Linked DNA regions of Homo sapiens. The protein of the gene in region 1 interacts with the protein of each later gene in a pairwise test. Each region holds a gene or a part of one and is shown in the gene's direction. Other genes may lie near its edges.

Region 1 (3,500 bases):
TGTCACCCAGGATGGAGTGCAGTGATGCGGTCATGGCTTATGCAGCCTTGACCTCCCAGGATCAAGCAATCCTCCCACCTCAGCCTCCTCAGTAGCTGGGACTGCAGGTGTACACGGTTGCACTCAGCCTAGGTTAGATTTTTGAACAAAAATATGTGGAGAGTGTGAAAATGAAGTGAGATACCTAGTAGCCAACCTGGGTTCACTCTACCAAGTCTTGGAGAAAACAACTCTAACTTGGGTGGAGGAATGTTCAGTAAGCCTTTTCAGTCTAATGATCTTCTTGGTACAAGAGAAAGCAGTGTGGTCTGGCTGATACAGCAGGGAGATGGATGTGTGACTGCTTGACCCACTACGCTGGATGCTGACTCCTAACTCCTGAGCTTGTGTTACTGTGAAGAGGTCCCCGTGATGTGCCGCAGGGCTGTCTTTGGCTTAGTCCTCTATGTTTTCCATAGATACGAGCCTCTCCCAGGAGCCTGTGTGGCCTGTGTCTTCTGTTTCTCATTTCTTTTTCTTTCTTTTTTTTTTTTTGAGATGGGTCTTGCTCTGTCACCAGGCTGGAGTGCAGTGGCGTGATCTTGGCTCACTGCAACCTCTGCCTCCTGGGTTCAAGCAATTCTCATGCCTCAGCCTCCCAAGTAGCTGGGATTACAAGCACACGCCACCATGCCCAGCTAATTTTTTTGTATTTTTAGTAGAAACAGGGTTTCACCATATTGGTCAGACTGGTTTCGAACTCCTGACCTTGTGATCTGCCCGCCTTGACCTCCCAGAGTGTTGGTATTACAGGTGTGAGCCACCATGCCCGGCGTATTTCTTTTTTTTGAGATGGAGTCTCGCCCTATTGCCTAGGCCGGAGTACAGTGGTGCGATCTCGGCTCACTGCAACCTCCGCCTCCTGGGTTCAAGCGATTCTCCTGCCTCAGCTTCCTGAGTAGCTGGGATTACAGGCACCTGCCACCACGCCTGGCTAATTTTTGTATTTTTAGTAGAAATGTGGTTTCACCATGCTGGCCAGGCTGGTCTTGAACTCCCGACCTCAGGCGATCCACCTGCCTTGGCCTCCCAAAGTGCTGGGATTACAGGAGTGAACCACCGCACCTGACCCTGTTTCTCGTTTTTATGGGCGTTGAGGGTAGCAAACATTGGCTGATAGAACCAGGGTTCAAAATCATCTCAGTTGACTGGAATGCTGCCATTAAGTAGAAAGATGAAGTTTAAAAATATTTCTCTCTTAAAATTAATATATGTACATTGTAGGAACCCTGGAAAATAAAGAAAGGCATAAAGGAAAAAAATGATACATAATACTATAATTCGGGTGGGCTGGTATTTCGGTGAATGTCCTTCCAAATTTGTGTTCATGCAAATCTATATATTTTAACATAATTGCAATTATACTCTATCCCGTTTTTTTCCCTACTGAATGCTATCTAATGGGTAATAGTGCATGTCATAAAAAATACTTAAAACCATAATTTTAAGGATCCAAGTAACATTGCATTCTATGACTATACTATATTTAACTATGCCCTACTGACTTTAAAACATTGTTTTTAGTTTTTAGCTTTTAAAAATTACTTGACATTGAGCAATGTTGAACATATACTTATCTCAAGAAGAAATGTAATAGGTCTAAGTGTAACATCCTGCATTTAAGTTCAAAGCATCAATTATGTAAGTCTAGAATAGAGTGGGACTTACTCTTCATTCATGTTGAGGGAAAAGGCTTGGGGTTTTGGGCTGAAAAACGAAGGAAGAGGGAAATGAACATTTTAATGCCTGTTAGGTGCTAGACCATTATTCTAGACATTTCTGCCTTCATCATCTCATTTCATCCTCTCAGCCCTGTGAGAAAGGTTTGGTTTGTTTTTGTTTTGTTTTTCAACCTCTACTTTACAGAGGGGACACTGTAGAAGTTATACTGCAGTTGGAGTTTGGACCCAGGTCAATCTGACTCTCAAACTGCCCCATTAAACCATAAGCCTGTGTGGGCCAGTGCTGTGGTAAGGTCTGTGTCAAGGGAAACCTTTACTCACTAAGCTCTGTGACCCTCTGGCCACATTGGAAGCCACATCTGGTTTTGGAAAGTTTATATATCCTGAGCTGTTAAGTATTGAGCTCGCCATTTTTGTGGGTCTTCCTCTACCCCCAACCAGTGATCTGATCTCAAACATGTGGGTCTTTTTTTTTTTTTTTTTTTTGAGACGGAGTTTCGCTCTTGTTGCTCAGGTTGGAGTGCAATGGCGTGATCTCGACTCACCGCAGCCTCCACCTTCCGGGTTCAAGCGATTCTCCTGCCACAGCCTCCTGAGTAGCTGGAATTACGGGCATTTGCCACCATGCCTGGCTAATTTTGTATTTTTAGTAAAGATAGGGTTTTTCCATGTTGGCCAGGCTGGTCTCGAACTCCCGACCTCAGGTGATCTGCCCACCTCGGCCTCCCAAAGTGCTGGGATTACAGGTGTGAGCCACCGCGCCCGGCCTTTTTTTTTTTTTTTTTTTTTTTTTTTGTGAGACAGGGTCTTAACTCTGTCACCCAGGCTAGAGTGCAGCGTTGCAATCACAGCTCACTGTGGCCTCAACCTCCCGCGCCCAAGTGATCCTCCCACCTCAGCTTTCTCAGCTACTCAGGTCTCAGTAGCTGGGACCACAGGTGATGCCATGCCCGCCTAACATTTTTTTTGTTTTAATTTTTATTTTTCATAGAGACAGGATCTTGCTGTGTTTCCCAGGCTGGTGTTTTTTTTGTTTTGTTTTGTTTTAATAGATAGGATCTTGCTCTGTTGCCCAGGCTGGAGTGCAGTGGTGTGATCATAGCTCACTGTAGCCTCAAACTCCTGCACTCAGATGGTCCTCCTGCCTCAGTCTCCCAAGTAGCTGGGATGACAGGTTTGTGCCACCATGCCCTGCCAATTTTTAAAACTTTTTGTAGAAACAAGGTCTTGCTATCTTTATTTTGCCCAGGCTGGTCTTAAACTCCTCGCCTCAAGCGATCCTCCAGCTTCAGCCTCCCAAAGTGCTGGGATTACAGGTATGAGCCACTGTGCTGGGCCTGTGAGTGTCTTAACAGAGGCTGGATGAGGACTTAGAACCTGCCCAGCATCTGGGTGCTGTCATTTCTCATTTCTAGAAGGTAGGCACCCTTTACAGCAGTAGCAGGTTAGGTCCATCTGACCTGAAGTCTATTACTTCATTATGTAAAACCACATAAAACTAGTGGGCCCTCTGTATCTGTAGGTTCCACATGGATTCGACCCACCCTGGATCGACAGTGTTCAGGGGAAAACATTCCACAGAGTTCCAGAAAGCAAAACTTGAATTTGCTGCTCACTGAATGCTGCATTGAATCCATGCAAATGAAGTGATGTGCATGCGTTGTGTTAGGTATGATAAGTTCTCTAGAAATGATTTAAAGCACATGGGAGGATGTGCGTAAGTTATGTGCAAACACTGTACCGTTTTATATGAGGGACTTGAGCATCCTCGGGTTTCAG
Region 2 (3,500 bases), on another chromosome or scaffold:
CTGTGTTCCCATAAAGCTTTATTTACAAAATCAGGCAGCCAGCCTGTGGGCCATTATCAGGCAACCCTGATAATGAAATTAATAATGATAAGGTAACATTTATTAAGTACTTACTGTGCGCCAGATACTGTGTTCACTCTACTGTGTTGGGTGCTTTAATAGTTATTTCTTTGTCTTCTCAACAACTCTTTGGTAGATACTTTTGTTATTCCCAGTGTCCAAGAAGAAACAGGCTAAGCAGTTAAATAATGTGCCGAGATCTCATTGCTTACAAGTGGTGGAACTAGAAACTCGAAAATTAGGCTGTTTAAGCCCAAATCCTAACCTATATACCAGGTTCACTTTCACCACTTACGTGTATAGAATGCATTAGAGTTTTAGATGCTTAAGCATGTATGGTAAGAATTAATTTTATGTGTTCATGTTTGTAGCTATGGACATTTTGAATTATGTCGGGAGAGCTGATGGAAAAAGAGGCTCCTGGAGGACTGGTAAAACTGAAGCCAGGTAAAGTCCAGTTTAAATTGATAAATGTAATCAGACTTCCTTCTATCCTGCATTTTCATACTGACAGTTTCTTTCTCAGGAATGAAGATGAAATGTATAAAATTCTCTTGAATGATTATGAATATCGTCAGAAACAAATCCTAATGGAAAATGCAGAACTTAAGAAGGTTCTTCAACAAATGAAAAAGGAAATGATTTCTCTTCTTTCTCCCCAAAAGAAGAAACCTAGAGAAAGAGTAGATGATAGTACAGGAACTGTAAGTGGCTCTTTCCTCTCTAATACAGTCTTCAGATTGCTAATAAGAATAATTAAAATATGTGGTAGGCATTCTCAATGGGGACACTATTGGTATTTTGAATAGGACACTCAACTGCTATGCTACTTTCAATTACTGTGACAACTGAAAAGACTGTTCCTATGTGTTTTCAGACATTTCCTGAAAAATGCTGGAGATGATTTTCCGGGGAATTAATACATGTCAAGCACTGTTAAGAAGTGCTTTATAAGCATTGTCTCATTTTATAATATTCCTCATAACATATGAGATTATTTCATATATTATAATTTGATGATTTAGATACTATAAATATCCCCATTTTATAGATAAGGAAACTAAGGCATAATATTTAGTAGCCCAGTATCACACATGACAGTGCTAGGATTTGAATCCAAGTTTCTCACTCCAGAGCTCACAATCATAACCACTATGTCAAATATCCTTTCAGTTGTTTTAGTATTATGTACTCTACTTTTCACAGAGTGAAACTTCTGTTAACTTTGGGAAACAAATATAAATTTATTGGGTGTTCTTTATGTTCTAGTCTCTGGAAAGGAAAGGCTAAAAAGATTTTGACTTTTTCCCTCAAGAAGCTCTTTTTGGGAAAGACAGACGTGGAGAAGTGATTATTACATGTGTTAGGTGCTGTAATAAGGTGGTACAATGTGCAGAACAGAATAGTTATGGCAATCAAGGCATCACAGAGAAAGTGACATTTTCACTGCTTCTTAGAAAATAAGTATTTTTGAGGTTAAAAAAAAAAACATGGAGAAAGCATTCCAGAGAATGGGAGTAATATATGCAGAGATCTGAAAAAAAAATCACATAATGGTGAAAAGTTCATTTTACTTAATTGCTTTACGTATAAGTTAAAATCGTAGGTTTCAGCAAGTTCACATTAGTGATAAAAATCTGAAAATAATGTTGATGGAAAATGCTAGTTAACAGCAAGATACCAGAACTTGTTTTTTAAACCTGTATTTGAGGATTATTTATTTTGTGGTATCACAAATCAGTCCAGCTGATAAGCCCATCCCAGCACTTACCTTTTTTTCTCCTTAACATTTAAAAAAAAAAATTACCTAAATTTTTTTTTTTTTTTTTTTTTTAAGAGACGGAGTCTTGCTCTGTTGCCAGGCTGGAGCGCAGTGGCACAATCTCGACTCGCTGCAACCTCTGCCTCCCGAGTTCAAGTGATTCCTCTGCCTCAACCTCCTGAGTAGCTGGGACTATAGGCAGCCGCCACCATGCCCGGCTAATTTTTTTTTTTTTTTTTTTTTTGTATTTTAGTAGAGACGGGGTTTTACCATGTTAGCCAGGATGGTCTCAATCTCCTGACCTCGTGATCCGCCTGCCTCAGCCTCCCAAAGTGCTAGGATTACAGGCGTCAGCCACTGCGTCTGGCCTTTTTGAGAGAGAGTTTTGCTCTTGTTGCCCAGGCTGGAGTCCAGTGGCACCATCTCACCTCACTGCAATCTCTGCCTCTCGGGTTCAAGCAATTCTCCTGCCTCAGCCTCCAGAGTAGCTGGGATTACAGGCATGCACCACCACCCACGGCCAATTTTGTATTTTTAGTAGAGACGGGGTTTCTCCATGTTGGTCAGGCTGGTCTCAAATTCCCGAATATCTTTTACATTCTCCATTTTGAGGCCTGCTTGACCTCTTATATGTAGTTAACCTCTTATCTCAAACTCTGTCACTTCTAGTCAGTTCTTAGCATTCACTAATACTTCTTCAAGGTTAGCATAGTGTCCATTACTACTGCAGCATCTTCAGTTTTTGGTCCAACCTTAACGTCTCATCATCAGATTTCAGTTAGCAAAAGTATGTGGTAAGTCAGGGAGATCTTTCTTCAGTGATTAAACCCTCCTCACCCCCATTACTCAGCCAGTGGGTAGTATCCTGTATAATTCTTCATAATTCACATGTTTAAGTGGATGAACAATGACCTCTTAAATATATATTCTAGTTTTAAAAGATCCATTTTTCTAGCTCCCTTTTCTCTTTAATTTTTGTAGGGAAAGATTTTTGAAGCATTATAGCAAGAGAAATAAGATGTAATGTTGGAATGCCTAGGTAGCATCCACATTTCATTTATTATTTGACCTACTTACTTGTAAAACATATACCGAAAATTCAGGTAAAATGAGTTTGTTGTTTTGTTTTTTGGTTTTTTAGAGGCAGGGTCTTGTTGCCCAGGCTGGTCTCGAACTCCTGGGCTTAAACAGTCATCCCACCTTGGCCTCACAAAGTGTTGGGATTACAGACATGAGCCACTGTGCCCAGCCGAATTTTTTATTTTCATTTTGTGGTTAGAGAGTTCTGTTCAATCTGAGAAATGTGCAATAATTATTCATTTTTCTTTCTTTTTTTTTTTTTTGAGATGGAGTCTCACTCTGTCGCCAGGCTAGAGTGCTGTGGTGACATCTCAGCTCACTGCAACCTCTGCCTCCCGGGTTCAAGTGATTCTCCTGCCTCAGCCTCCTGAGTAGCTGGAAGTACAGGCATGCACCACCACGCCCAACTAATTTTTGTATTTTTAGTAGAGACAGGGTTTCACCATGTTGGACAGGATGGTTTCGATCTCTTGACCTCATGATCCACCCACCTCTGCCTCCCAAAGTGCTGGGATTACATACAGGCATGAGCCACCGCGCCCGGCCAATAATTTTTCTAACAGATTGGTAGTATTCTAATAGGCTTTAAAATGTTCAG
Region 3 (3,500 bases), on another chromosome or scaffold:
GCTGGGCTCGGTGGCTCATGCCTGTAATCCCAGCACTTTGGGAGGCCGAGACAGGTGGATCATCTGAGGTCAGGAGTCCGAGACCAGCCTGGCTAACATGGTGAAATCCCATCTCTACTAAAAATACAAAAATTAGCTGGGTGTGGTGGCAGGCACCTGTAATCCCAGCTACTCAGGAGGCTGAGGTGGGAGAATCACTTGACCCAGGAGGCAGAGGTTGCAGTGAGCCGTGATCACGCCATTGCACTCCAGCCTTGGTGACAAGAGCAAAATTCCGTCTCAAAAAAAAAAAAAAAAAAAAAGACTTGAATCCTGGCTGGGCATGGTGGCTCACACCTGTAATCTCAGCACTTTGGGAGGCCGAGGCAGAAGGATTGCTTGAGCCCAGGAGTTTGAGACCAGCCTGGGCAATATAAGGAGACCTCGTCTCTACAAAAAATACAAAAATTAGCTTCTACAAGAACAAAAAAATTAGCCAGGTGTGGTGGCACATGCCTGTAGTCCCAGCTACTCGGGAGGCTGAGATGGGAGGGTCACTTGAGCCCAGAGGTCGAGGCTGCAGTGAGCTGTCACTGCACTCCAGCCTGGTCAACAGACTGAGACTCTGTCCATATAAAAATAAATACTTTAATCCTAAACGTTGACACATCTATTTTAGACAGCATATATTGATATGTTGGTTCAAGTCGTCTTTTAAAAGTCAAAGGTAGGCCGGGCGTGGTGGCTCACGCCTCTAATCCCAGCACTTTGGGAGGCCGAGGCCAGCGGATCATGAGGTCAGGAGATTGAGACCATCCTGCTTAACACGGTGAAACTCCATCTCTACTAAAAATACAAAAAATTAGCCGGGCGTGGTGGCGGACACCTGTAGTCCCAGCTACTCAGGAGGCTGAGGCAGGAGAATGGTGTGAACCCAGGAGGCGGAGCTGGCAGTGAGGTGAGATGGCGCCACTGCACTCCAGCCTGGGTGACAAAGCGAGACTCCATCTCAAAAAAAAAAAAAAGTCAAACGTATAAAGTATGAAGGAACCTCTGTGTTTATCTATTCAAGATTACCATATAGTACAGAATCAGCTGTAGATATTCTTAGATTTTGTAGTACTGTTAAAATACAATATTATAAAAATGGTATATGGAAAAATACTCTAATCCTACTAATTTATTTTTATCTTTTGTTTTTCTTCTAATCTTTGTTCTAGTACAGACAACTTTGAATTCTGCTTTTTATGTTTTACACTTGTATATGTGAGCATTTATCATGTTGCTGCCTAGTCTATACTACATAGTATTTTTATTTTTATTTTTATTTTATTTTTATTTTTTGAGATGGGGTTTCACTCTTGTTGCCCAGGCTGGAGATTATTCTTAAACTATGTTAAATACACTATAACTCTAATACTTATTTAATTAATTTTGTTTAATTACATAGTATTTTATAAAGTTGTTAAACCAAGATTTAACTATTTCTTTATTGTTCAACATATTTTATTATTTTCTAATTTTGTCCAATTAGAAATTAAATGGTAGAGTAAATTGCTGAATGCATTGAACATAAAACAGGCATAAATACAGACTCATTTTAATTTAAAAAATTAAAACAAAAAAAGTCCAGGCTTGGTGGCTCACGCCTATAATCCCAGCACTTTGGCAGACAGAGGTGAGCGGATGGCCTGAGGTCAGGAGTTTGAGACTAACCTGGCCAACATGGTGAAACCTTGTCTCTACTAAAATACAAAAATTAGCTGGGCATGGTGGCAGGTGCCTATAATGCCAGTTACCTGGGAGGCTGAGGCACAAGAATTGCTACAACCTGGGAGGCGGAGGTTGCAGTGAGCTGAGATTGCGCCATTGCACTCCAGCCCTCAATAAAACCAAAAGGACACTTTTATTCCTAGCAAAACCTAATAGTCTGGAGAACATGTTCCATGGAGCACACTTTGGAAAATGCTGATACAGAAACAATTTTAGAGCTCTGAAGAACCAAAAATCTAGTCCCCTAAATTGACAATTGAAGAAAATAGTATTCAAATTCAATAAACATTGATTTGGCTACCATAGTTGATTTCAAATATATCAGTGGTGCCCAAAAATGTCCCAATAAAGTAGTTATGCTTAAACCCCTGTTAAGAAATAAAACAGGCTCTAAGAAGTTAAATGACTTACCCAAGATCAAAAAGTGGCAAGTGGTGAAGTGAGATTTGAACCCAGACCTCTCGAGTCAGTGCCTTCTCCGTTAACACATCCTGCTGCTTCCCTGGTCATCAACCCTGAATACATTAAACTGGTTGGATAGTTTAGTGACTTCAAATATTTTCACTTTCTTGGAAGTAATGTGTTTCAAAAGTGAAGTTTAATTTGTATGGTATTTCATGTTACCTTACTATCAGCATATAAAAAGTGGGAGAATAGGCCAGGCGGGGTGGCTCATGCCTGTAATCCCAGCACTTTGGGAGACCGAGGCAGGCAGATCATGAGGTCAGGAGATCGAGACCATCCTGGCTAACGCGGTGAAACCCCATCTCTACTAAAAATACAAAAAATTAGCCGGGCGTGGTGGCGGGCACCTGTAGTCCCAACCGCTCAGGAGGCTGAGGCAGGAGACTGGCATGAACCCGGGAGGCGGAGCTTGCAGTGAGCCGAGATCTCGCCAGGGCACTCCAGCCTGGGCGACAGAGCAAGACGCTGTCTCAAAAAAAAAAAAAAAAAAGTGGGAGAATATACAGTCAGCAGTCCCTGAAGTTACATTTTATTTTATTTATTTTTAGAGACAGGGTCTTGCTCTGTTGACCAGACTAGAGTGCAGTGGCGTGATCACAGCTCACTGCAGCCTTGACTTCCCACCTCAGGCTCCCGTGTAGCTTGGGACTACAGGTGTGCACCACCATGCCCAGCAGTTTTCTTTTTTTCCTTTTTTTGTAGACATGAGGTCTCACTGTGTTGCCCAGGCTGGTCTGAACTACTAGGCTCAAGCAGTCCTCCTTCTTTGGCCTCACAAAGTTCAGGGATTACAGACATGAGCCACCATTCCCAGCCTGAAGTTAAGTTTAAGAAACAGTAGGCAGGGATAAAAAACAAACAAAACAACAACAAAACCTCATTATATTCAACTCTGAATAGCAGGAAGGCGTACCCATGATGCCTGAATTTATGTGGTGCATTGAAAAATATTCTTAGCTAACTCTACAATTGCTTACTCTTTCCTTTTACAGCTTTTCCCCCTTATATTGACCAATTCCATTTTCTTCTCTGCTGCCTGCCTAATCCTGACCACACCCTTCTTAACACAGGCCAGAGGTTGCCCTTAACAAGCAGGAGTCTACTGCACTAGAGGTAAAACACAGCCTCTCAAGGGATTATTCTTTGATTCAATAAATATCTTCTTATCTACCTTGACAAAATAGGTAAATCTCCTTTTTAAGGAAATAATCTTGTAAAAGAACCAAGATGATTTTATAAAAATCTGGGAAAAAGTGGATCCAGAATCTGTTAGATGTTGCTCA
Region 4 (2,461 bases), on another chromosome or scaffold:
CAGCTGGGACCTGCAGCCAGAACTTGCAGCTCCACAGGGAACTCCGGGACCCTTGGGTGTGGAGAGGAGAGGGTCTGGGAAGGTTATAAACCAGGTATCTCTACATCAGGATGGCCATCTAGGAGGCGCTGGGCCTCCTGGGCACTGCCTGGTGGCTGATAGGACTTCAGAGGCTCTGCCCCTTTGTTGGCAGGGAGGCTTCCAGCCTGAGAGCACTCCCAGTTTGGATGCTGGACTTGCAGAGCTGGCTCCTCTGCAAGGACAAGGGTTAGAAAAGCAAGTCCTGGGATTGCAGAAAGGACAACAAACAGGGGGTCGTGGAGTGCTTCCTCAAGGGAAGGAGCCTTTAGCAGTGCCCTGGGAAGGCTCTTCAGGAGCCATGTGGGGAGATGACAGAGGTACCCCCATGGCTCAGAGTTATGATCAGAATCCTTCCCCTAGAGCAGCTGGGGAGAGGGACGATGTCTGTCTCAGCCCAGGAGTTTGGCTGAGCAGTGAGATGGATGCTGTAGGCTTGGAGCTGCCTGTACAAATAGAGGAGGTCATAGAGAGCTTCCAAGTTGAGAAGTGTGTAACTGAGTATCAGGAAGGCTGCCAGGGACTGGGCTCCAGGGGCAACATTTCCCTGGGTCCTGGAGAAACCCTAGTACCTGGGGATACGGAGAGCAGTGTGATTCCCTGTGGAGGCACAGTTGCGGCAGCTGCCCTAGAAAAGAGAAACTATTGCAGCTTGCCAGGACCTTTGAGGGCCAACAGCCCACCCTTGAGGTCCAAAGAAAATCAAGAACAGAGCTGTGAAACCGTAGGGCATCCCAGTGATCTGTGGGCAGAAGGTTGCTTCCCATTGCTAGAAAGTGGTGATTCCACACTGGGGTCTTCCAAAGAAACCCTTCCACCCACATGCCAAGGCAATCTCCTTATCATGGGGACTGAGGATGCCTCCTCCTTGCCTGAAGCCAGTCAAGAGGCAGGGAGCAGAGGCAATTCCTTTTCTCCTCTGTTGGAAACCATAGAACCTGTCAACATACTAGATGTTAAAGATGACTGTGGCCTCCAACTAAGGGTCAGCGAGGACACCTGCCCACTGAATGTTCATTCTTATGACCCCCAAGGAGAAGGCAGGGTGGATCCTGATCTGTCCAAGCCTAAAAACCTTGCTCCTTTACAAGAGAGTCAGGAGTCTTACACAACTGGGACTCCCAAAGCAACATCTTCTCACCAGGGCCTTGGAAGCACTTTGCCTAGAAGGGGAACCAGGAATGCCATAGTTCCGAGAGAAACTTCTGTTAGTAAAACACACAGGTCAGCAGACAGGGCCAAAGGAAAGGAGAAAAAGAAAAAGGAAGCAGAGGAAGAGGATGAGGAACTCTCCAACTTTGCTTACCTCTTGGCCTCTAAACTTAGCCTCTCACCAAGGGAGCATCCCCTCAGTCCTCACCATGCCTCAGGAGGTCAGGGCAGCCAGAGAGCATCCCACCTGCTCCCTGCTGGAGCAAAAGGCCCCAGCAAACTTCCATATCCTGTTGCCAAGTCTGGGAAGCGAGCTCTAGCTGGAGGTCCAGCCCCTACTGAAAAGACACCCCACTCAGGAGCTCAACTTGGGGTCCCCAGGGAGAAACCCCTAGCTCTGGGAGTAGTTCGACCCTCACAGCCTCGTAAAAGGCGGTGTGACAGTTTTGTCACGGGCAGAAGGAAGAAACGACGTCGTAGCCAGTAGGGAGCAGCGGGACCATCTGACCCCACTTGCCAGTCCCTAAAGGTGGGTGCCCCAGAGTAGATTCCACCCCTGCTGCCCACCAATGGAGAATCCCAATGTTGAATCTCATCCCAATGTTGTTTTGTTGTTCTGCAAAAGTGGCAAGCATGGAGAGAGAGGTCAGACTGGCTAGGCTGCAGGGGGAATTACCTTTGGAAGGAGCTATATAGAAAAAAAATGAATAAAGTGTTTTGTTGGAAAATGCTCTCAGAGTGCCCTTTTTCTGTACTCGTGTCTTTGCTGCTAGATAGGGTTAAGATGCTATGAAGAAAGGCTGTAGGGGTAGTCTTAGATTCTACAAATCCATAAATCTTGTCTCCAGCCTTATCTTGGCTCCCTGCAGCCTCCTCCTGGCAACAGACTGGCTCTCAGGCTGTGATAAGTCTCCAAACTGAGGAATCTCCAATGATCACATTATACATCCCCTCTTCACAAGCCTGGACTTGGTGTCAGGAAGGCTTATCTGGGCATCTTATAATTATCTGCCTCCCTTGAAGTCTATAGATAGAAAGATGCTTTTCTACCTGTTAGATCTCTGAGATAGAGATCTAATTTTCTTTCTTCTTTTTTTGAGACAGGGTCTCGTTCTGTAGCCTAAGCTACAGAGTGCAGTGGCATAACGATGGCTTATTGCAGCCTCAACCTCCTGGGCTTAGACAATCCTCCCAGCTTAGCCTCCCAAGTAGCTGGGACTACAGGTGTGCA
Region 5 (3,500 bases), on another chromosome or scaffold:
CTTTATCCTCTGGGATCCAGAGTGTCCTCTGCAGGGATGCTTTTGTAGGTGGCCCCTGTTCTCTCGCCTTCCCCCAACACATAGACACCCCTGGACGTGGGACCTGCTTTGCTAGAGTCTAGCTGCACCCTCTCTAACTTCTCTCCTCCTCCCTCCTCCATTGATAAAAACAGATTTACCTCTCAGTCTTGTCTGCCATTCAGTGATAGTATCACTCACATTGGTAAGACTCGGTAAGTGTTAGAATTAAATTAGTCATCACGGTAACCCTGTGCATTAGGGAAGTCAAGATGCTTTCAACCTTACTCTATACATAAAGATTCTAGCTCTGGAATCTGCCACAAGTTTTGAGTAATGAAGTATAAACTAAGAAGGTCCCTTGAATTGTGTAGAATAGAACAGCACTGTGAGCTGCGGGTGTCCTGGTGACTGCTCTGAGCTTGTAACTCAGGCTGATCTTAAAGGCACAAAGAGAAATAGGTCGGCCTCAGTGCCTCAGTGTATTAACCTTGTAACAAGTGCCAGGCAGGAATGTGTTCAAGAGCTGCAGGGTTGCACTGCCCTTAAATGGGGCTGGTGGAATGGTCTCTTCAACAGTACATATCAAGGAACAAAAGGGAAAGAGAGCCTATAGGTTAAGATATTTAAGAGACATAGCAACCATATACAACATGTAGACTTTGTTTGAAGCCTAATTTGAATGGACTGACCAGAAAGTAATTAAACAAATATATATGTGTGTATATAAATGTGCATATATAAGTACATATATGTTTCTATAAAAGAATAAGAGTTAATCGTTTAGGTATGACAATGTGACAATGACATTATGGTTATGTTTTTTTTTTTTTTTCGAGACAAAGTGTTGCTCTGTTGCCCAGGCTGGAGTGCAGTGGCTCAATCACTGCTCATTGCAGCCTCAACTAACTTCCCCAGGCTCAGGTGATCCTCCCATCTCGGCCTCTGGGACTAAAGGCGTGTGCTATCATGCCCAGATAATTTTTATTATTTTTTTGTAGAGATGGGGTCTTACTATGTTGCCCAGGCTGGTCTCAAACTCCTGGGCTCAAGCGATCTGTCCACTTCAGCTTCCCAGAGTGTTGGGATTATAGGCGTGAGCCACTGCACCTGGCACAATTATGCTTTTTTTTTTTTTTTTGAGATGGAGTTTTGCTGTTGTTGCCCAGGCTGGAGTGCAGTGGTGCAATCTTGGCTCACTGCAACCTGCGCCTCCCAGGTTCAAGTGATTCTCCTGCCTCAGCCTCCCAAGTAGCTGGGATTACAGGCAGGCACCACCACGCCTGGCTAATTTTGTATTTTTAGTACAGACGGGATTTCACCATGTTGGCCAGGCTGGTTTTGAACCCCTGACCTCAGGTGATCCACCTGCCTCAGCTTCCCAAAGTGCTGGGATTATAGGCGTGAGCCACTTTGCCTGGTCACAATTATGCTTTTTAAAAATATGTCATCTTCTAAAGATTACGGTTAGATGTTTTTGAGTCAAAGGATGAATTAGTATTAAAATAATCTACTATGGCGAGCGGTGATATAAATGAAAACAAAATTAGTTACGAGTTGGTCAAAGCTTGGTGTTTGGCACATGAGGGTTTATTACACTATTATTTTCACTTTGGTATGTTTACATTTTTCTGTAATAAAAAGGTTTTTAAAAATTCTCTTGGCGGCCGGGCATGGTGGCTCATGCCTGTAATCCCAGCACTTTGGGAGGCCGAGGCAGGTGGATCACAAGATCAAGAGATCAAGACTGTCCTGGCCAAGATGGTGAAACCCCACCTCTACTAAAAATACAAAAATTAGCTGGGCGTGGTGGTGTGTGCCTGTAGTCCCAGCTACTTGGGAGGCTGAGGCAGGAGAATCACTTGAACCCGGGAGGTGGAGGTTGCAGTGAGCCGAGATCACACCCCTGCACTCCAGCCTGGGTGACAGAGCAAGACTCCATCTCAAAAAAAAAAAAAGAAAAGAAAAGAAAATTCTCTTGACCAGGCACAGTGGCTCACGCATGTAATCCTAGCACTTTGGGAGGCCAAGAGGGGCTGATCACCTGAGGTCAGGAGTTCTAGACCAGCCTGGCCAACATGATGAAACCCTGTTTCTACTAAAAATACAAAAATTAGCCAGGCGTGGTAGTGGGCACCTGTAATCCCAGCTACTTGGGAGGCTGAGGCAGGAGAATCGCTTGAACCTGGGAGGCAGAGGTTGCAGTGAGCCAAGATCGTGCCACTGCACTACAGACTGGGCAATACAGCAAGATTCTGTCTCAAAAAAAGAAAATTCCTCTTGAAGTAGCCAAAGAATTCTTGGCTAAAAATAAATAAATAAATAAATATCCTCTTGAAGGAACTAGGGAGGGAAGTAACTGAAGAGACATTGTGTTTGCTGTGTTTGACAGAGTCTGCAGAAGGCTACAGATGTGAAAGATGTGGGAAGGTATTTACCTACAAATATTACAGAGATAAGCACCTCAAGTACACCCCCTGTGTGGACAAGGGCGATAGGAAATTTCCCTGTTCTCTCTGCAAACGATCCTTTGAGAAGCGGGACCGGCTTCGGATCCACATTCTTCATGTTCATGAGAAGCACCGGCCTCACAAGGTGAGTATTAGGAGGACACATGACCCACCATCACGTTCTCTCTCCCTTCCCAAGCTCCTGAACACGGGGAGTTGCCTTGTAGGTGCTAGCTGCAGGGCTGTGATGCCTGACGGACACCCTCTCTGAAGGAGGAGAGGATAGTATTACGGAACAGGCAGGCGTGAATAGGCACAGCGATGCACATGTGTTAGGATGCAGGTACCCACAGAGGGAGGAACATGGAGGAAGGAGTGTCCACGGCCACCTGGACACGTGGATTATGAAAGATGCACAGAGGTGGCCTTGAGCCAAGTATAGAAGGACAAATGGGGTGTCTGATTTATACTGGTGGCAGGGTTAGTTGGGCAGGAAAGAGTCGAGCTGTTCCAGACAGGAGAGAGCCTGGCATGTGCTCCTGGGGAACTGCGCCTTGTTCCAAATCTGTGCAGGTGTGTTGACAGGTATAGGTAAGAAGGAAGTGAAGGCACGGTCCTTCCAAGGAGCGGAAGGCCTCTACAGTGGGCCGAGGATTTTGTAAGACAGAAAATCAGTAATGACATTACGGAGCCATTCCAAATACCTGGATGCTCTGCTAGGCTTGCTGCAAAAAAGTACAATATTCCCTTGGGCTTAATTAAAAGGAGGACGAGGCTTGGGCACAGATGTATTCTTGCTTGACTGTTGGCCTTGTCGGAACTACCTCAGGCAGCTACGACCTTGAGCCCATTTTCCTGTTTTGAAAACTGAGAATAAAATCATCATAAAATTGTCCTAATTTCTCCCTTCCTTCCTAAGCTTCTGGAAAAGTCATGTTTAATCACTATATTATATACTCCTATAAAATTTGAATACATTTACAGTTATCATGCATTTGTGTAATTCTAAAAGGATTTAAAAATATCAGGACG
Region 6 (3,500 bases), on another chromosome or scaffold:
TAATAATCATTAATAATGATTTAAAATGTGTACATTGATTTTTTTTAAATTCCAAAATACAAGCGTATATGGTAAATTAAGTCAAATGGTATGTTCAGTGAGCGAGATGGGCTTGGGGCAAAACAATACTTTGCTTCCAAAGAGGATACAACTCTCAAGGAGATTCTTTCATCTTGCCTTTAAGGTCATTTAAACTAATTCACATAATCTTCAGAAAACTAATTCACATCATCTATTCATGTGTAAAATCAAAAGGAAGACTGTTTTCTTAGTCTCTCGTTGCCTAACTGGCCATTTATACTACTAGGTTGATTAAGGGATTTGCCTTTTTCTGCTGATATGGGAACAAAAAGTCTTAAGCATTTTTAAAGGCAATGGAAAATTCAGCCACATGGGGGAAAATTGATATTGTCACCATTGAGTTGCTCTGTTTCTTGGTGAAGAGTGAATCTAATCTGATTTCCTTCTTCATCAGATATGCCTCTTTAACAACAAAAACAAAAAAATGGGGGGAAGTTGCACATTGAGTTCTCATCCTCTGAAGCTCCTGGGCAAAAGCATTATTGTGGACCGTGTGATGGGCATTCGTCAGCTCTTTGGAGACCTATATGCTTAGTAGAGTATCAGGTTTAACACTAAGCATCGCCCCTTTTTTGTTCCTCTTGAAAACTTTTACTTCTGCAACATTTAAGAAATCATAACTCGCTTTTAGAGTTCCTACGGGCTTGGTTGCTACTCTAAAGAATGTGTGAACTATATTGCTGGTGTTCTTTCTTTCCAAAATATGAATTTGATATTCAGTACTTCACTTGTAAAATTTTAGGAACAACTTTTAAAAAATAAGTATCCAGAATATTTTCATGTGAAACAACTTTTCCTTTTCCTTTTGTTCTTTCTTTCCTATAAGAAAACGCTGTTTTACGCTAATCATGTTTTGAGTAGACCCTTGGGCTTTTTCTCTTGAAATTGGAAAGTTAACAGGTATAATATGCAAGTCTTGTTCAGCCAAGACCTTCAGTTTGTTCTTGACAGTAGGAAAATGCTTATTTTCCAGGCTCAGCCCTGAAATTTCTATGTTATATTTACGAAGATACTTTAAGAAATACAGCATGTGTTTCTGGCTTTCTTTGAAATGGCAGTGGTAGTTTTCAGAAAAATATCCAATTTGTCAGAGTAGTTCCACAGTGGTGCTGTCCAGATGCATGAATGTTTTTCAGCTTTACAGAAATGTCAGTAACCGGGGGTTTGGCGAGCTTGCCGGGATTTATAGAAAGGCTCAGGAACCCTACCTTGCTAGGACTTTGTCAGAAGGGTTATGCCAGCTCCTCTGACTCTGTCAGCAAGAAAATACTGATATAGAATAGCACCAATACTTACCTAGAATCACATGTGCTGGAGGGTCACTCAAAATAGACATCTCAAATTATCTGAAGCACGGTACAGATTGAGAGGGGGCAAGTTGTCATGCCACTAAACCACTGTTTATTTGTTGGGGTCTTAACTATTAAAGGGCTGAGGTTTATTTCAACTTCCTATTTTACCAGGTCTTAAACTGGTAAAGCCATTTTGTCATGAAATAGAATAGAAAGCCATTTTGTCATGAGTAGACCCTTGGGCTACACGTTTCTCCCAGTCAGGACACCATCATTAACTTCTACGATCGAGTCTTAGAATTCTTTTTTAATTTATTTCAAAAGATAGAACAGGGCAGATTCTAGAGCTAGTGGTACCGATGCCTGTTCAGTCACAACTCCCACCTAGAGATGGGTTTGGGCAACCCGAGTGAGTGATTTTAAAATTTCACCCCTGATTGACCAAATATGATGTATCACATTTAAGGTGTCGTAATTTCCTCCTTTCTGGGAATATGAGGATGGAGTAATAGATGCTGGTACAGAAAACTGAAACCTAGATAAACTAGGAAGCCCATTTTGTTGTTCTTCTGCATGCTGGTTGTCATAAGCATGTAGGAAGAAGATTTAACTCTTTAACTGGACCAGTTGTGAGCTATTTTGACGTGGGTCAGACATTTGTACATATTATTCCATTCCCTCAACAATCCTGTGGTATCATTTATAGACAGAGAAATCGAAATTCAGAGGTTAAAAATTGCCCAGTATCTCAAAGATTGTAAGTGATGAACTTGGACGCAAACCCAGACCTTCCTTGCTACAAAGCCAGTGCAAGTGGGATGGCCGTTCCCTGGGCGTGCACTCTTGGGTCAAGGATCGATTTACTACAGGGCTGACCAGTGTCGAGAAGAATCCCAATCACCAAAGGAGGGATGGAAAAAGTGTTGGGCTATCCACTCACTTGGCATTCTTGTATTGAACATGTTCTATTATAATTAGATGTTGATAATAAGAAGAATTTTGGGGCCAGGCTGTGTGGTGGGCACCTTAATAAACTGTCTCCTTTGGTACATGTGCATTTGTTTATAAAGTTTGGGAGAAAAGAAAACTCAGAATAATGAATCTCTAAATAAGAGTGAAAGAGGGGGTATATGAGCAGGGAGAAGGCTTACCAGCCACTCTGTTTACTTTATTGGGGCCATTGCCTTCCTACTTTTGAAGTTCATTGGGACCAAGTGCTTATCATCCAAACCCAGTCAACATCTAATCCACTTTTATGAGTATGCGTGCCTCACTTTGAGTGTTCCATATGGCCAAGAGGGGTCCCTGACCTCTCAAATCATCTCTTGATTTTTAGTATTCCAAGTAACTTCTGTCTTGCTAATTATTTTCCCCCAAAATTAAAGTTACTTAGGAAGGACTATATTCTGGTGCTGCTGTCTGCAAAACTCTGAGATACTGAAATGACCCTGTTTCTCAGTTGTATAGAGTTATTTAAGTCCGTCTGATTCTCTCTTTATCATCTGGATAGACAAAAGGAAGAAAACCTTTCCACCTTCCTGTAGGAGAAGGAGATAAATCCTCTTTCCAGCCTTGGAGGTAAAATATCCAACTGCATTGCATTGCTTTCCTTTCTCTCTCCCTCTCCTTCCCTCTCTTCCTTACTCTTCTAGCAATTTGAAGTTTGAAAACAAAGGGAGTAGGGACTATTTGATTACCTTGAAAGTGGAGGCTACAATCAAACACCAGAAATCCTCATATGTGAATCTATAAATGGTCATTTAATGGTTACACAAAGTAACATATTCAGAATGTGAGAAATTAATTTATATAATAGGCTATAAACATGACAGGTGAATGATTTCATTTAAAAATAGCTTTTAACAAGGTGTAGTAGGGTATGAGAGCCTTTCCAGGTCTATAGCATTATAATCTTACCCCGACAACAAGCCTGAATCAGGTGTTCACAGGAATAAATAAAAATAATTAAAGGAAAGAAGGGAGAGAGAGAGAAGAAATGAAAACCAGTGGGATGACTGCAGAGATTCACTGCAGGGCTTGATCTTAGTGATGAAATATTTCTTCTGTAGACTGCATATGTTCTGAACTTTCCCCTTATGCTTGTAAATATGTAGGCCAGCACACCCA
Region 7 (4,151 bases), on another chromosome or scaffold:
GGGTCAGTTAGGCCACCCTGCTGCTTTAGAATGAAAAGGTAGATGGCATAGCAAGGTTTGGCTGACTAGAAGAATGTTTCACATTCAGAAAGAGGCCTCCCTTATTGGGCAGTATATTCCTACTGCAGTGCTCAGAGTATTAAAGAGGGCATTGCTCAGGTCCTGTGGGAGGACTTGTGCATTGGGCCAGATTAGTTCCTGTAGAAGTGTTTACTTCTTTCTCGGTATGTGCAAAACTCTACTTAAGTGTGGTTTTCTCCTTAAAAATCTCTTGTTCTAAGGTTCTATTATAATTTTTATTTTGTCACTTTTTATATTGGCAGATAATTTGGCTTCAGTTTGACTGTTTCAGTCCATTTCATTTTTAAAAAACTTTTATTTAATTATATATAAAACATGGTTGCCTTCTATTAGTATAGAGTATTAAATAAGACTGTGATCTGCAGTTTTGTAATGTGTAATCAGATCATTCTCTTTCAGAGTGACAGCATTTTTGCTTTAAATTCATCATAGCATTGTGTAAAAGTAAAAATGCCAAAAATTAAACATGAAATCAAAATGGAGTATATTCAAAGTATTTTCTTAATTTTTATATATTATAGGAGATGAGAATGAATATGGAAAATCTAGTTAGGAATGAAGATATTCTACATTCAGAGGTGAGAAGAAAAAGTCATTCTATGTTATGTGAAATGAATTGAGTATCCTAGAATGTAAAGCTTAATTTTGATGCATAAGTAGCTAAATTTTTAGCAAGTATATTATCAAAACTGATAGTCCATGTATATTTTCCGGTGATAACAAGTCACAAATAATGTGCTTTGAAGCAAAATCTCACAATAGGTAAAAATTGGACATTCAGTTTGTGTTTGGATTTTTAAAAACTAGGCTCTCTTGAGATATTGAAGCTATTTACCACATAATTACTTACAATTATTTTAAATTTCTGCAGGTATTTTTAAAAAAAGTTCTAGTATTTATTACCAGAATTGTAGCTTTGCATTCTAGGATACTCAATTCATTACCAGAATTCTCTTGTCATTAACAGAAATTGGTTAATTCCACTAATTAATAATGTTGAATTTTAATGTTATAAATCAGAAAATTTTTAATCAAAATTGAAAGAAAAGTAATGTATTAATTTTGAAATCATTTAAAAGTAAAAATCAATTTTTTGATTGTAGGAAGCAACACTAGACTCAGGCAAAACACTAGCTGAAATCAGCGATCGTTATGGAGCACCTAACTTGAGCAGAGTGGAAGAACTTGATGAACCAATGTTTTCTGATGTCAGTATCAGTGTGTTTTGTGAAAAAACTCGTTTTTGTTTTTGTTTTTGATTTTTTTTACTTAGGTAAAGCCTAGGGAAAATGAGGCTAGGCCAGGATTGGTTGGCAAATAGGCCTTTTGCTTCAGAGAAAGAAAATCAGTTCCCTGGTTGCGGATTATATTCCTAATTGGCATTCTGCCCTTTTGTGAAGTGTGTCACTGGCTTATCTATATCTCCGTATCTGTGACTTCAAAACCTCTTCAAAATATGTTTTAAAATCATTTTGTGAAATATATAATCTTTAAATTTGGTGTGGGGGGCACGATTTTTGTTCTCAGTAGCAAACCCTGGAACCAAATTAATGCCTTAATGAGAATGCATGCTTCTCCAGTATGTAAGTACATTTGTTTATTTAAGAAACATGCCACATCTTCCATATGCCAGGCACTGTGCCTGATGCTGTGGTGAATAAGGCAGATGGCTTTGACCTTATGGAGTTTATTGTCAGGGGAGAAACAGACAATTAGATGAACATTTAATAGTCATGGTTAGTGGGACCACATAATTTATTGTCCAAACCAGTATGCTTTTGAGAATGAGAGCCGGATCAGCAGATGTAAGCCAGGACTGTCCTGGAAGAAGGGTACATTTTGGTCACTTTAATTGGTGTACACGGACAAGGGGGGACAGCCAGCACAGTTGAGGAACCTCAGTCAGGGAAGGAAGCTAATGATTTGCTACTCACTGGTGGCATGGGAGGCTGAGGATAGTGCTCCAGGCAGAGAGCATGGAAGGTGTGAAGACCCAGATAGGAGAGCGTGTAGAGGGAGTGAGGCAGGGAGGGGTGAGAGCTGAGGCCAGGGAGAAAGCAGGGGCCAGACCATGAAAGCACTTGTCATTTCTGTTCAGAGGCTTAGATTTTATCCTGAAGGCAGTGGAGACTCATATGATGAGAGCTACATTTTGCAAAGACCATCTGGTAACAGTGTGGGGAAGAAAATGGAGAAGTAGGTGTCAGGAGATGGCTTAGGAGGTAGTAATCTAGGGGACAAGATGTCGATGGCCTGAAGTAAATGTTGTTTTCAAGAGCTGTTCAGAAAATGGAGCTGCACAGACTCAGTGCTAATTGTTTAAAGTTTTATTAAAGGTCAGCTATGATTTGGCACTATGCAGGGAGCTAGAAAATGCCAATGAACAAAATGGATTGGGCTTCTGCCCTTGGGGGCCGTGGGCCAATGGGGAAGCTTCTTTGAGGGACAGAGTAGGGAGAGACCTGACCTGGGCTGGACAAGTCTTCCTCAGGAGGTGAAGTTCAAGGAATTAGCCTGAGATGAGCCCAGAGGAAAGAGACAGCAAAATGCTTTCAAGGGACTGAAGTCATCCAGTATTAATGGCTAACGTCCATGGAGCTAGGAAAATGGTGTGATTTTAAGCTGGAGAGGTGGATAAAGGCAGAGCACACTGGGTCTTGTATGTTGCCTTAGGGATTTTGGACTTAAGTGCAGTAGGAGTTATTGAAAGGACTTAAAGATTCAATCTGTGTTTTTATAAGGTGGAGAGAGGATTGGTGTGGAGCAGGAGTGGAAAAAGGGAGACCACTTAGGAAGTTATTGCACTGATCCAGATGTAAGATGACTAGGGTTAGACAGCAGAGATGGAGGGAACTGAGTGGATTTAAGATTGGCTTACAGGATCAGTGCGGGGCAGGGTCAGGATGAAGCCTAAATGTCTTCCTTGGGCTACTGAGTTAAGAGTGTTAACATTTGATGAGTTGATGAACATAAGAGGAAGCAGGTTTTTAAAAAATGATGGCTTCAGTTGCAGAGATGTTGACTCTCAGGTGGCTCTGAGATATGCAGGTGAAAACAGCCAAGAACAGTTGATGTTAGGAAGGGGCCCAGGCCGGAGATATAAATTCAGCAGTCATGGGCATATGTGCTGAATGAAGCAAGGGGATTGAGTAAGGTACCTAGGAGAGAGTGCAGTGTGTGAAGGCCTGGGGGCTCAGGGAGGAACCATTAGCAATTCTAACATTGAAGGGATGGCCACAGGAAGAGGAGCCTACAAGAAGGATGAGAATGCATAGTAAGAGAAGTAGAAGAAAGGATGGAACAATAACTACTTTGAGAACATAATTTATGGTTATATTCAATTTGAGTATCATTTGAAATCATCTGAAACTCCCAAAAAGTTTCATTCATGTAGTCACATAGAAGTTACCTAAAGTTTATTTCTTTGGCTTGTGCCTTTTCACAGTTCTAATTGTATTAAGGAATATTTACTTTTTGTTTTGCTTTTAGATTGCATTAAACATTGATCAAGATTTGTAGGACCAACCAACCTAAGAGCAATAAATGTTTTTGTTTGTTTCAAATTTCAAACCATGAGGTTCCCAATTTGTATTTTTTTCCTTCAAACTTGAACTCCCCTTTTTTTTTCCTCTAAGGACTGCTTATGAATGGGCTTCAAGAGTAGCCTCAAATTATTATTTTGGATCCTTCAGTTCAACTGGTTATTTATACATTTCCATTGGGAAAATAGGAGAGTTTGCTGAAGCAACCAAAAGAGGCAAATGGGAGGTGAGCTGAACTAATATGTGCGTCTATGCAAGAGCAAGACTGCCTGAGAGGACAGTTGCTGGCTGGGTGCAGTGGCTCACACCTGTAATCCAGCGATTTGGGAGGCCAAGGCAGGTGGATCACTTGAGGTCAGGAGTTTGAGACCAGTGTGGCCAACATGGTGAAACCCCGTCTCTACTAAAAATACAAAAGAAAATTAGCCGGGCGTGGTGGTGGGCATCTGTAATCCCAGCTACTTAGGAGGCTGAGGCAGGAGAATCACTGGAACCCAGGAAGCAGAGGTTGCAGTGAGCCAAGATCAT

Evidence for each region.
Region 2: the proteins of TEAD4 (region 1) and SSX2IP interact in a two-hybrid assay, tested with the Homo sapiens proteins (2 studies listed by BioGRID).
Region 3: the proteins of TEAD4 (region 1) and CCDC125 interact in binary tests that used the Homo sapiens proteins (3 or more experiments, as listed by UniProt).
Region 4: the proteins of TEAD4 (region 1) and NUTM1 interact in a two-hybrid assay, tested with the Homo sapiens proteins (one large-scale study listed by BioGRID).
Region 5: the proteins of TEAD4 (region 1) and PRDM14 interact in binary tests that used the Homo sapiens proteins (3 or more experiments, as listed by UniProt).
Region 6: the proteins of TEAD4 (region 1) and RUNX1 interact in binary tests that used the Homo sapiens proteins (3 or more experiments, as listed by UniProt).
Region 7: the proteins of TEAD4 (region 1) and DYDC1 interact in binary tests that used the Homo sapiens proteins (3 or more experiments, as listed by UniProt).

Annotation. Positions count from the first base shown.
Region 1 is NC_000012.12:2,965,897-2,969,396, forward strand, and holds part of TEAD4 (transcriptional enhancer factor TEF-3), read left to right. Parts: intron 1-3,500. UniProt on the Homo sapiens protein: Transcription factor which plays a key role in the Hippo signaling pathway, a pathway involved in organ size control and tumor suppression by restricting proliferation and promoting apoptosis.
Region 2 is NC_000001.11:84,659,462-84,662,961, reverse strand, and holds part of SSX2IP (afadin- and alpha-actinin-binding protein), read left to right. Parts: intron 1-431; coding exon 432-507; intron 508-586; coding exon 587-764; intron 765-3,500. UniProt on the Homo sapiens protein: Belongs to an adhesion system, which plays a role in the organization of homotypic, interneuronal and heterotypic cell-cell adherens junctions (AJs).
Region 3 is NC_000005.10:69,326,302-69,329,801, reverse strand, and holds part of CCDC125 (coiled-coil domain-containing protein 125), read left to right. Parts: intron 1-3,500. UniProt on the Homo sapiens protein: May be involved in the regulation of cell migration.
Region 4 is NC_000015.10:34,355,775-34,358,235, forward strand, and holds the end of NUTM1 (NUT family member 1), read left to right. Parts: coding exon 1-1,717; 3' UTR 1,718-1,961; downstream 1,962-2,461. UniProt on the Homo sapiens protein: Plays a role in the regulation of proliferation. Regulates TERT expression by modulating SP1 binding to TERT promoter binding sites.
Region 5 is NC_000008.11:70,057,753-70,061,252, reverse strand, and holds part of PRDM14 (PR domain zinc finger protein 14), read left to right. Parts: intron 1-2,410; coding exon 2,411-2,613; intron 2,614-3,500. UniProt on the Homo sapiens protein: Transcription factor that has both positive and negative roles on transcription. Required for the maintenance of embryonic stem cell identity and the reacquisition of pluripotency in somatic cells.
Region 6 is NC_000021.9:34,829,303-34,832,802, reverse strand, and holds part of RUNX1 (runt-related transcription factor 1), read left to right. Parts: intron 1-3,500.
Region 7 is NC_000010.11:80,335,605-80,339,755, reverse strand, and holds the end of DYDC1 (DPY30 domain-containing protein 1), read left to right. Parts: intron 1-602; coding exon 603-659; intron 660-1,184; coding exon 1,185-1,289; coding exon of another isoform or gene 1,290-1,340; exon of another isoform or gene 1,341-3,570; coding exon 3,571-3,600; 3' UTR 3,601-3,651; downstream 3,652-4,151. UniProt on the Homo sapiens protein: Functions as part of axonemal radial spoke complexes that play an important part in the motility of sperm and cilia. Plays a crucial role during acrosome biogenesis.